Linked DNA regions of Homo sapiens: region 2 is linked to region 1. The links come from fine-mapping of genetic effects on gene expression. A gene starts in region 1. The other region holds a variant in brackets. All regions are shown on one strand. Distances are between the middles of the regions.

What was found. PIP is the estimated chance that this variant, and not a neighbour inherited with it, causes the effect.
Region 2: its variant is the best candidate, but not a certain one, in a credible set for the expression of EI24 in whole blood (INTERVAL, PIP 0.64).

The regions. Positions count from the first base shown.
Region 1 is chr11:125,567,275-125,572,652 of GRCh38, forward strand. It overlaps EI24 (EI24 autophagy associated transmembrane protein), which reads left to right and starts at 2,203. Exons shown (of 11, transcript NM_004879.5): 1 at 2,203-2,299; 2 at 5,184-5,295. The coding sequence starts at 5,254. STT3A-AS1 (STT3A antisense RNA 1) reads right to left here. Exons shown (of 4, transcript NR_132372.1): 3 at 3,016-3,168; 4 at 834-844. RefSeq lists enhancers at 1,867-2,368, 2,871-2,920 and a silencer at 1,871-2,430.
Region 2 is chr11:125,389,829-125,395,206 of GRCh38, forward strand. The region is part of intron 6 of PKNOX2 (PBX/knotted 1 homeobox 2); the gene reads left to right. Among named protein-coding and RNA genes, the nearest start is that of FEZ1, 100 kb to the right of the region's middle. The variant C/T (reference allele first, on the strand shown) is at 2,469.

The DNA of each region.
Region 1 (5,378 bases):
GGACTTAACTTGTAGCTTGGCTTTCGAGCTTTAAACTGTTTTTGGCTTGGAGGTGGGGTTTCAATGGGGACCCGCCACTAACTGCCTAGGCATTTGGCTGTCTCCTGTCGCTATCACTAGATCTAGTATTGTTATCATTTCACTAAATCATATATCCATACAGTTAAAAAACACCTTCATATATATACCATTTATTTCAGCAGCCTGTGTTAAAGAAACTAAGGTTTGGGCCAGGCGTGCTGGCTCACACCTGTAATCCCAGCACTTTGGGAGGCCAAGGCGGGTGGATCACGAGGTCAGAAGATCGAGACCATCCTGGCTAACATGGTGAAACCCCGTCTCTACTAAAAATACAAAAAATTAGCCGGGCGTGGTGGCGGGCACCTGTAGTCCCAGCTACTTGGGAGGCTGAGACAGGAGAATGGTGTGAACCCGGGAGGTGGAGCTTGCAGTGAGCCAAGATAGAGAGACACTGTCTCAAAAAAAAAAAAAAAAAAAAAAAGAAACTAAGGTTCACAGCTTAACTGGAGGTCATGTCTTCTCAAAGTGCTCTGCCACAAACTTCCTCATTTGTGAAATTTGGAAAATAATATCCTCTACTTGTCCACAAATAGCATCTAATCATACATAAGCATGTGAGAGCTCTTTAAAAATGCAAGGTATTAATTATTATTGGTTTTTATTTTAAATGTGGTTATACATGTTGAGATTTAAAAGATTTCCTCCCGGCCAGGCGCAGTGGCTCACGCCTGTAATCCCAGCACTTTGGGAGGCTGTAGGTGGGCGGACCACGAGGTCAGGAGATCGAGACCATCCTGGCTAACACGGTGAAACCCCGTCTCTACTAAAAATACAAAAAAATTAGCCATGCTTGGTGGCAGGTGCCTGTAGTCCCAGCTACTCAGGAGGCTGAGGCAGGAGAATGGCGTGAACCCAGGGGGCGGAGCTTGCAGTGAGCCGAGATCGCACCACTGCACTCCAGCCTGGGAGACAAAGACAGACTCAGTCTCAAAAAAAAAAAAAAAAAAAGATTTCCTCCCATGAAGTAAGCCAGAATAAACTCATACCTACTAAATTCTTTCTAAAATCTTTTCTAAATTGACACTCTTGAGAAAGAATAGAGCTTGGAGGAAGAGCTATTATTATAATTAATAGCACAATAATCAGTTTGTCATTAAACCACTTAGGTCTCTTTGTAACAAGATTTCTAAGCTTTAGTAGATGGATTCCTTATTCTATTCTATTTTATATTGTTTTGTTTTGTTTTATTTTATTTTATTTTTCGAGACAGTCTAGCTGTGTCACCCAGGCTGAAGTGCAGTAGTGCGATCTCGGCTCACCGCAACCTCTGCCTCCTGAATTGAAGTGATTCTCATTCCTTAGCCGACCAAGTAGCTGGGACCACAGGTGTGTGCCACCATGCCCAGCTAATTTTTTGTATTTTTAGTAGAGACGGGATTTCACCATCTTGGCCAGGGTGGCCTCAAGTGATCTGCCCGCCTCAGCTTCCCAAAGTGCTGAGGTTACACGCATGAGCCACCGTGCCCAGCCACTTATTTTATTTCATTTTTTAAATTTATTATTATTATTATTATTTTGAGACTGAGTCTTGCTCAGTCGCCCAGGCAGGAGTGCAGTGGTGTGATCTCGGCTCACTGCAACCTTCATCCCCTGAGTTCAAGTAATTCTCCTGCCTCAGCCTCCTGAGTAGCTGGGACCACAGGCAGGTACCACCACACCTGGCTAATTTTTGTTATTTTAGTAGAGATGGGGTTTCGCTATGTTGGCCAGGCTGGTCTTGAACTCCTGACCTCGTGATCTGCCTGCCTTGGCCTCCCAAAATGCTGGGATTAAAGGCATCCTGTTACTAATTTCACAGGATTTTAGAAACGCAAGCAGCGTTGTGGAGTCAATGGGGGAGGGCAAAGAACAGGAGGAGAGATCTGTGAGAACGGGATCGGCGAGGAGGCGACGGGGAGGAGGCGACGCGGAGGGGTGAGGGGTCCTCTCCGCCGCCAGGCGGAGTTGGGAGCCGGACGATCCCGCACGCAGCGCGAGGCGGGACCCCGGACTGACTACATTTCCCAGTCTCCGTCGCTCCGCGCGGCCCACCCCTTCGGCTCTGGGCCCCGCCTCGTGGTGCCGGCTGGTTCTTCGCGCTCGCCCGACTTCCCAGCGGCCCCGTGCGGCCCGGGCATGCCCAGTGCGGGCGCAGCGGCCCCGGCCCTGGAAGCGCCCCGGCGGAGCTGGCCTGCGGTGGGCTAGGGGCAGGGCCGGAGCCGCGGCGGCGGAGCTGTGGGTAGGTGCGGGCTCAGCCGAGCTAGGCCTCGGGGCCGCCGCGCCGCCCATTCTGAGTGGCAGGGACCGGGAGGGCAGGCAGGGCCCGAGCGTGGGTTGGTGGGGCTACCGGCGAGGACCCCTTATGGGAAGGGGCCGGAGGGAGCGGGACGGGGCCGGGCACATCCCCGGGCGAGGCTGCCCCAGGTGCGGCGCAGCTATCTTTAGCTCCCTGTGTGACCCGGAGCGTGCGTGATCCGCACCTCGCGTGATCCGTACCTCGTGCACAGTTGTGCCTAGGGAGACCAGTTTTCTGCCGAATTGCCTAGGAGCTGTGGGGAGATGGGCCTGAATGGACCCGTGGACTCAGAGGCAGCCCGTGGAGCCCCGTGGGAAGTGAGGATGTTTACCTTCCCTGTACCTGGAGTGGGCTACGACAGCTTCCTGTTTGCCGAGACTTGGGTTTAGTGACTTAGAAATAAAAGTGTGTCTCAGCAGATGCTTATTAGCTTCTAATGACTGTTGGGAATTTAATGGCATTTGTATTTCCAGGTTTGAGAGGTTATTTGTCCATGGGATGCTCGTGTTAAAACAAAAATCTTCATTGCAAAGCTTAAGTAAAAACAAGTCTCGACCGAGGTAACGTTAGAACACCGGGTTCTGAGGTTCACTGTAGCTGCCATTCATTTGCTGTCAGTCTGGGCAAGTCATTTAACTTCTGAGACTGGGTTCTCTCACCTGTTAAATGAGCCAGATGCATCTTCATCTGTCTAGCTCAGCTGTAGGATTCCCCCTGTGTCATTCAGTCTGTGTGTGTGTTCTCAAATTGTGGCAGGTTATTTTTCCCCATGCCTCAGCTATTTGTCAGACTGGGTAATTCACCAAATATTCCTGTAGGAAGGATGTTAGGATCTAAGTATAAAAGTGAAGTGATTTATCCTTCATAGGTCACTCTTAGGAGGTGTCCTGCCACTTGGTACATGCAGAAACCAGGTGTTAGCTGGCCAGGGATCAAATGACACAGCTGTTGTGGACTGAGACAGAATGTTTCAGGTTCCCTGTCAGTTCCCTGTGAGAAATCCAGGCCAAGTAATGGGCTTCCTTAAACCTCCAAGCTGGCTCACTTTGGTGGGGTTGTGTTTATATAGAATTTTAAGTTTTTTTCATGCTGTTGTGCCCTATTAGATGCAAGAAACCTATGAAGAAGTTTAGTACCCTTAATTTATAGATGAGCCAGTGGCAGGTTACGGGAGTGGATCTGTGAGTCTTTACAAACTAGTGTCGTGCATATCACTGAGCCTTTGCTAGTTATCTAGCTCAGCTGCCCTCACCTCAACCCTGAGAACATGTCTGTATGGCTGTACCTACGCGACTGGAACTCTGAGGTGTTTGTTTTCAGGAGGAAACAGTGGGAGTATTAACAGAAGTTTCTTACCCTAGAGACTTCTATCCGAAGTGAGCCTATCTGTGTAGGATTTGACCTAAGGAGCAGAGGGTATATACAATGTTGGGCAAATTGCCTTCCTACTGCCATATCCCCTGCTCTTCCAGTTCTGAATGGCATTAGTCCAGTTGGGTCAATGAGGAGCAGTTTGGTGAAGTGGTTAAAGGTCGGGGAAAGTGTGCTTATATTTTGAAATTTAAGGTTTGTACAAGCTGCTTGTGAAATTCTGTCTTTGTATTATGGTCATACCTCTTAAACTGAGAATACTGCAACTTGATTGAGTGAGTGTTGAGAACTTTAGAATATCAGGTTCTTAAAAAATGCCTGAAAGTGGGTTTTCTATTCATCTTAGAAGTCACCACAGATTAAATGAGAGAATAGTATATTAATTACAAGTATTTCTCACATGAACTCTCAAGTTCTTAATTTTTGAAACTAGATATCCCATTCACCTGAGAAATAAAATGGGAAAGCCTTACTGTTTTAAAGACTGTTTATACATATGAACTTTTTTGAGGCCTAGTTTAAAATCCACTATTTATTGCATGTTTATTAAAATTGTATCTGTATATATTTAAAGTTAGAAAACAGAAAAGACCAGCCGGGCGTGGTGGCTCATGCCTGTAATCCTAGCACTTTGGGAGGCTGAGATGGATGGATCACCTGAGATCAGGAGTTTGAGATCAGCCTGGCCAACATGGCGAAACCCCATCTCTACTAAAAATACACAAAATTAGCTGGGCGTGGTGGCGGGTTCCTGTAATCTCAGCTACTCGGGAGGCTGAGGCAAGAGAATCACTTGAACCTGGGAGGTGGAGGTTGCAGTGAGCCGAGCCCAGTGTTGCACTCCAGCCTGGGCAACAAGAGCGAGACTCTGTCTCAAAAAATAAAATAAAATAAAAAAGACCTATTTGGAGGTTTTGGTACGCAATTTCATGTCATACCTTAAACTTTACTGTGCCCGAGGGCTCTGTATGACTGAAGCATGTATTTAGTAATTTTTGTAAGAACTTTTATCTTGCTCTTGTATTTTCATTCAAGTATTTGAAGGTATCCAGCAAACATAAAAATTGCTTAAGAAGATATTGAAATGTAATTATCTTCCATCTCCAAACCCTCAAAAGTGCTTAGAATGTGTAGGAGGGATAGTTAGGGGCATTGAGGCTCAGAGGAGGTTACTGGTCAAGAGCACATTGTAAAAATGTAAAATGTAAAAATGAGAGGGTGTAAAATGTAAAACCCCTTGTAAAAATGAAAGGGTGGTGAGTGTTTTAGAAAAAAAATAGGGATTTTAGGTTTCAGCTGTACAGGAATAGCTTCACTTGATTCACTCTATTAGTGCTAGAATCTACTGCTATCTTACTAGAGCTACAAGTATGTGAGGTCATCATGTGGAAATGTGCATGAAGTAACTTATCTTTAAAATAAATATTTGCCTCCATTATGTTCCATCTGTTTCCAGATCCTTCATGATGAGAGATTTGGGGACACTTCTCTCTCCTGTGTGTAGTTGATAGTTTGGTGGTGAAGAGATGGCTGACAGTGTCAAAACCTTTCTCCAGGACCTTGCCAGAGTGAGTACATCTTGTTTATAGGAATTCATCTCTCGGCCTTTTTTTTTTTTGCTGAAGGAACCATCTAGGAAATCCTTTAGGGT
Region 2 (5,378 bases), 180 kb before region 1:
ACATTTTAATGAGACTCTGGTGTGGCTCGAGGGACAGATTACGGCTGCCTGACCGCAAAGCCAGCTCTAAAATAGGGACCCCCAGGCCCCTGGGCCCACTCTGAAGAGGCAGGGCCAGAGGCGGAGGCTGTGGATAAGGAGGCACCTGAAGGAATCAGGCCAGAGCTCTGGGCCCAGAGGCCTCAGGCCAGCGGCATTCAGAGACTTAGCCACTTTGGCCTTCAGTCCGGGCTCTCTTTGCCTAGACAGGAGCAGAAAATCCCACAGACACCAGGAAAGGGAAAGGAAATGGGAATCCTCAACGCTAGTAATAATGAACATTTATAGAGCACTTACCAGGTGCCGGGTACCGTTCCAACTGTTTTACATATATTATCTTATTTAATCCTCTTTCTAAACCCACAAGGCACATGTTACTATTATCCCCATTTTAAGAGGAGGCAATTGAGGCAAGAGATGCAGTCACCATCATGCAGCTGGTCCATGGCCCAGGCAGGAATCAAATACAGTGCAAGACTCGCGCTCCAGTGACCACACCCAAAGCAGCTCTGGAGCTAATATCTTCTTCCATCTTTCTCTGGGCCAGGTCTTGTTTCTCATTTTCTTCTAGCTACATCTTATTTAACCCACAGTGCAACTCTGAGGAGTCACTATTATTATCTTATTTTCCAGGTGAGGAAATTACAGCTTAGAGATTATGTAAATTCTTCAGTGTCTCACCGTAGGTGGAAGACCCAAGACACCCAAGACCTAAAGCCCCGAGTGTCTTCTTTGCTGTTTAATTCTCACAAGACCCCTATGAAGTAGTTGTTATTATCCCCATTTGACAGAGGAAGAAATCAAGGACTAAGAACCCTATAGCCAATAAATTACATAGCTGGGATTTGAACCAAGTGGCTCTAACTCCTGAAGCCCACCCTCCTTCCTCGGTACCACTTCTTTCCCAAATTCTGAGGCCATCAGAAGGAGAGTGCCAGGTTATTGACTCCAAAATGATTTGACTTGTCTTGCGTGATGGTTTCCACAAAATATTTGTTTTGTCCCCGAATCATCAGGCAGTTCTCCAATCACTGGTATTCACCTTTTTTTCATGTCCCATTTTTTGTTCTAGTGACCCCACACTTCCAAATGGTCAGGCCAAGCTGGCCTGGTCTGGAAAAATTCCTGATTAGATTTGAGCATTGGCAGGCACAGTGACCCACAGGAAATATCATAGCACGTTAAGGAATGTGTGTTTATAAATTCCTTCTTCTGTCCGTGAGGGAGAATAGTTCCAGCTTCCCAATTTGCAAAAAGGAAGGAGAGGGTGAAAGGAATGTGCCTGCAAAACAAAGATGCCTCCCTAATTCCTGCATGGAGCTGAATGGGTTCCGTAATCTCTGAGCCTCAATTTCCTTATCTCTAGGAGAGATAATATTGCCTGTGTCCCTGTGGTGACGAGACTCAAATGAGATAATGGAGAGAAAGCACTTTGTAAATTGTAAAGTGCTGTGTATACAAACGTTTTGAAAGGCAAGAAATTATTATTATCAAGTGGAAAGGCCACGATCCTACAAGAGAGGCACACTGAGAGAGGCATTTGATGGTGGAGGGAGGACCATAATACCACAGTGGTATGAGGAATTGACATTTCCTGAATGGCTACTATATGCCCAACACATTTGCATACATGATCTTATTCAGTTTTCACAACAACTCTGAAGTGTAGGTATTATTGTCATCCTAAATTTTGCAGATAAAGTTCAAACTACTTGTTCAAAATATCAAGGCAGAAAATAATCAGTGTGGGACATCAGACGACATGGCTTTATAGAAAATAAGAAACCCCATTTTTGTGTACTTTCCTGGGACTGTGAGACTTGTGTACAGTGGTAGGAGACTAAAATGTGAGGTTGCATTTGTTTTGCTTTTTTGATGCAGACTTCTTAGAAAAAGAGGGCTGAATCATTATTTTGAAAGAGAAGGGAGGGAAAGAAGCTGAAAGATGGAGCAACACCTGGGGAGAGGAATTAAGGATGCATTCACCACATTTGGCGGTGATGTTGAATTAAGTGGCATTGTTATTGCCCTAGAAGATTTGGAATAAATTTTCACATGACCCCGATCATTTAGAAAAATAGTTTAATAAATCAGAATTTTCTAACTTGGAGACAAAAATCCAAAATTGTAAACACAGGATAGAGGATGATTTACTAAACACAAATATGGGAGCAAAAAAGACCCTTGGAGTTACTATTTTTTCACTGGCTGGACGTAGAATAGCAGTAGAAAAGCCAATGGGATATCAGACATTATTAGAAGAGATTATTTTTACAACTTGCATGCATTTGGTTTACTGTGGTTTATAAAGCATGTTTACATCATTATCTCCTTTAGCCCCTTTCAAATCTTGTGAGTTAGAGATGAACATTATCCCCATTTTACACGTAAAGAGACTGAGGCTCAGAGAAATCATGGAATTTGCCCAA[C/T]GGCACCCAATTAACAGAGAGCGGGCTCGGACTCAAATCCAGGCTGCCTGACAATGAACCCACAGTGTTCCTGCCCTGCCAGGCAGCCCTCTAACATTGATAGTGTTGCCTACCTTTCTAATATTGAACAGGTCCTACATATTCATTGCCTCAGAATACCATTATGATTTACTCTACCTCCTTAAATCTTTCAACCAATTCCATTAGCCCATAAAAAAGTAATCCTTCAGCTGCACTTTATTAGACCAAAGGATAAGTCCACTTTTGGTCACTGTGCACCAGACCTGGTTTAAACATGCTGTGCGTGTATTTTATTTGAGCAAAGCTCTTCTGAGTATATTTTACTTTTGTTTTACTTACCTGTATTTTCTGATTTTATAAAGTAAGTATAAATTGGTTATATATTTAAAATAAATGAATAGGTAAGTGCACTTTTCTCTGTGTATGTGTGAATATATGTATGTGTGTGAGAAAGAAGGAAAAAAGGAAAGAAAGGAGGGAGGAAAGAAGGAACGGGGAAGGGAAAGAGAAGAAAGGTTTAAGGAATGACGATCGTTTTTGTCTAGAAAAGAGAAAGTTTGGCCGGGCGCGGTGGCTCACGCCTGTAATCCCAGCACTTTGGGAGGCCAAGGTGGGCGGATCATGAGGTCAGGAGATCGAGACTATCCTGGGAAACACAGTGAAACCCTGTCTCTACTAAAAATACATAAAAAAAAAAATTAGCCCGGCGTGGTGGCGGGCGTGGTCCCAGCTGCTTGGGAGGCTGAGGCAGGAGAATGGCGTGAACCAGGAGGTGGAGCTTGCAGTGAGTCGAGATCGCGCCACTGCACTCCAGCCTGGGCGACAGAGCAAGACTCGTCTCAAAAAAAAAAAAAAAAAGAGAGAAGAGAAAGTTAATTGAACAACTTGTTCAAGTCAGATGCCTGGTCCAATATGTGGCATATAGTAAGACTCAATACTTGTTGAATGAATAAAATTAAATTAAAAAGAAGTTGTGTTGATAGAGGTCCTAGAAGTTCCTCGATGTTCTTGGTGCCTACAGAAGGCACTTTACATTAAGGCGGGAGAGATTTTGATTGAATATAAGGAAAAGCTTCTAATCAGCAGACTGAGAGAATATGGAGAAGGTCCGAGGCAACAAGGTCATCGCCCAGTGACCGGGAGAGGCTGGAGGAGAAGATGCAGCCTGTGTCCTGATGAGTTTGGACTGTGCAGCCACCTAGAGGCTGGTCCAGGTCACCGTGTGGGGTTCATTCTAACACCATCAGGCGTGAATTGAGGGCAGAAGTCCTGGTAATGTTCAGAGAGTCAGAAAACGTAAGGGACCTGACAGTCCAGCCCTCTCCGTGTGCACATGGAGAAGCAGGCACCTGTGTTGGTGAGGTGTTTGGACCCCGGGGGGCTGTGCCAGGAGTGAGAGATGGGAGATCAGAGCAGCTGAGAAAAGGCACATTACCAGGAAGGGTTCTGGAAATCCTAAACTTTGATGTCTCAAAAGCTACTTGGCTTCCTAGAACCCCGTACTTGCTGTCACTGAGCCACTTTCTCCCAAACCACGCACCCTTTATACTACCACTTCCTCTACCTACATAATCCTGAGAGTCCATATTGAAAGACAAGGCACACGGGTGGGGGGTGGGGCAACCTGGCTTCATATCGCTCACCAGTTGTGTGACTCTAAGCAAGGAAACGTAATATTTTTGGATTTTATTTTCTTCAAATGCAAAATATGAGCAATAATGGTACCTACTTAATGAGATGGTTGTGTGGAATAAATAAGGCCTGGAATGGGCTTAACACAGTGCCTGAGACACAGTCTGAATAAGAAACGTTTGGGTATTATTAACAATCCAGCAACGCATATGTGTTAAGTACCTTATCCTGTGCTCATTACACTGAGAGACATAGACCAAGATGTTCGTGGCCAAAGTCAAGTAGAACATTAGGCAAGAACAAATCTTTATTAAGTACTTAACTCCACTTTGGGGTCCAAATGATCCATTCTAAAGTCACAATTTTCCTCTTTGCTTAGGATGGCTCAGTCTCCCTCAGTCTCAGCCCCACAGAGGTGGTACTTCTTAGGAGGAGACCTTGTGACTGAGCCCTGCATGACGACACACAATCGCTGCTTTCTGTCTTTGAGTGACACTTGGTCTAATTTAGTACTCCAAAAACCCTTAATTAGTTGAGCACAATCCCTGCTCATCAGACAAGCCACAAGCCCAGCCCAGGGAATGTGGGCTCCCCACTTGAAATGCCAATGAGGCTCAGAGAAGGGTGTAATGCTGGCTTCAAGCCACACTTCTCTACACACACCTCACAGTCACAATTCTCTGGGAGAGATTTCCTTCCTTGTTTCCATCCCTTTTTATATTGTCCAAACTCTCCTCTAGGCATCCAGGAGCTAGCCAAAAGCTAGGAGGGTGGGACTAAAAAGAGATCCCATATATTGCTTGCGTCAACATAAATGGATCTGGAAAAGCAATAAGCATCACCCGCTCCTAGCGGTTACATTTAATTTTGATATAAATGTAGATTCACATGCAGTTATAAGAACTCATACAGAGAGCTCCTGATTCACATCTTGTATAACCATAGCACAATTTCACAGCCAGGAACAATCCACCAACTGTATTCAGATTTCACCAGTTTTACGTGCCCTCGTGTGTGTGTGTGTGTGTGTGTGTACATGTAATTAGTTCTGTGCAATTTTATCATATACTTAGATCCACATAAACATTGTTATAGCAAAGTACAGAACAGTTCCTCCCTCCCTCCTCCACTCTACCGCTGTCAACCACTAATCTGTCTTTCTGTCTTCCATCTCTATAATTTTGTCATTTCAAAAACGTTTTGTAAATGGCATCATATAGTATATAATCCTTTGAGACTGGCTTTTGTCTCTCAGGA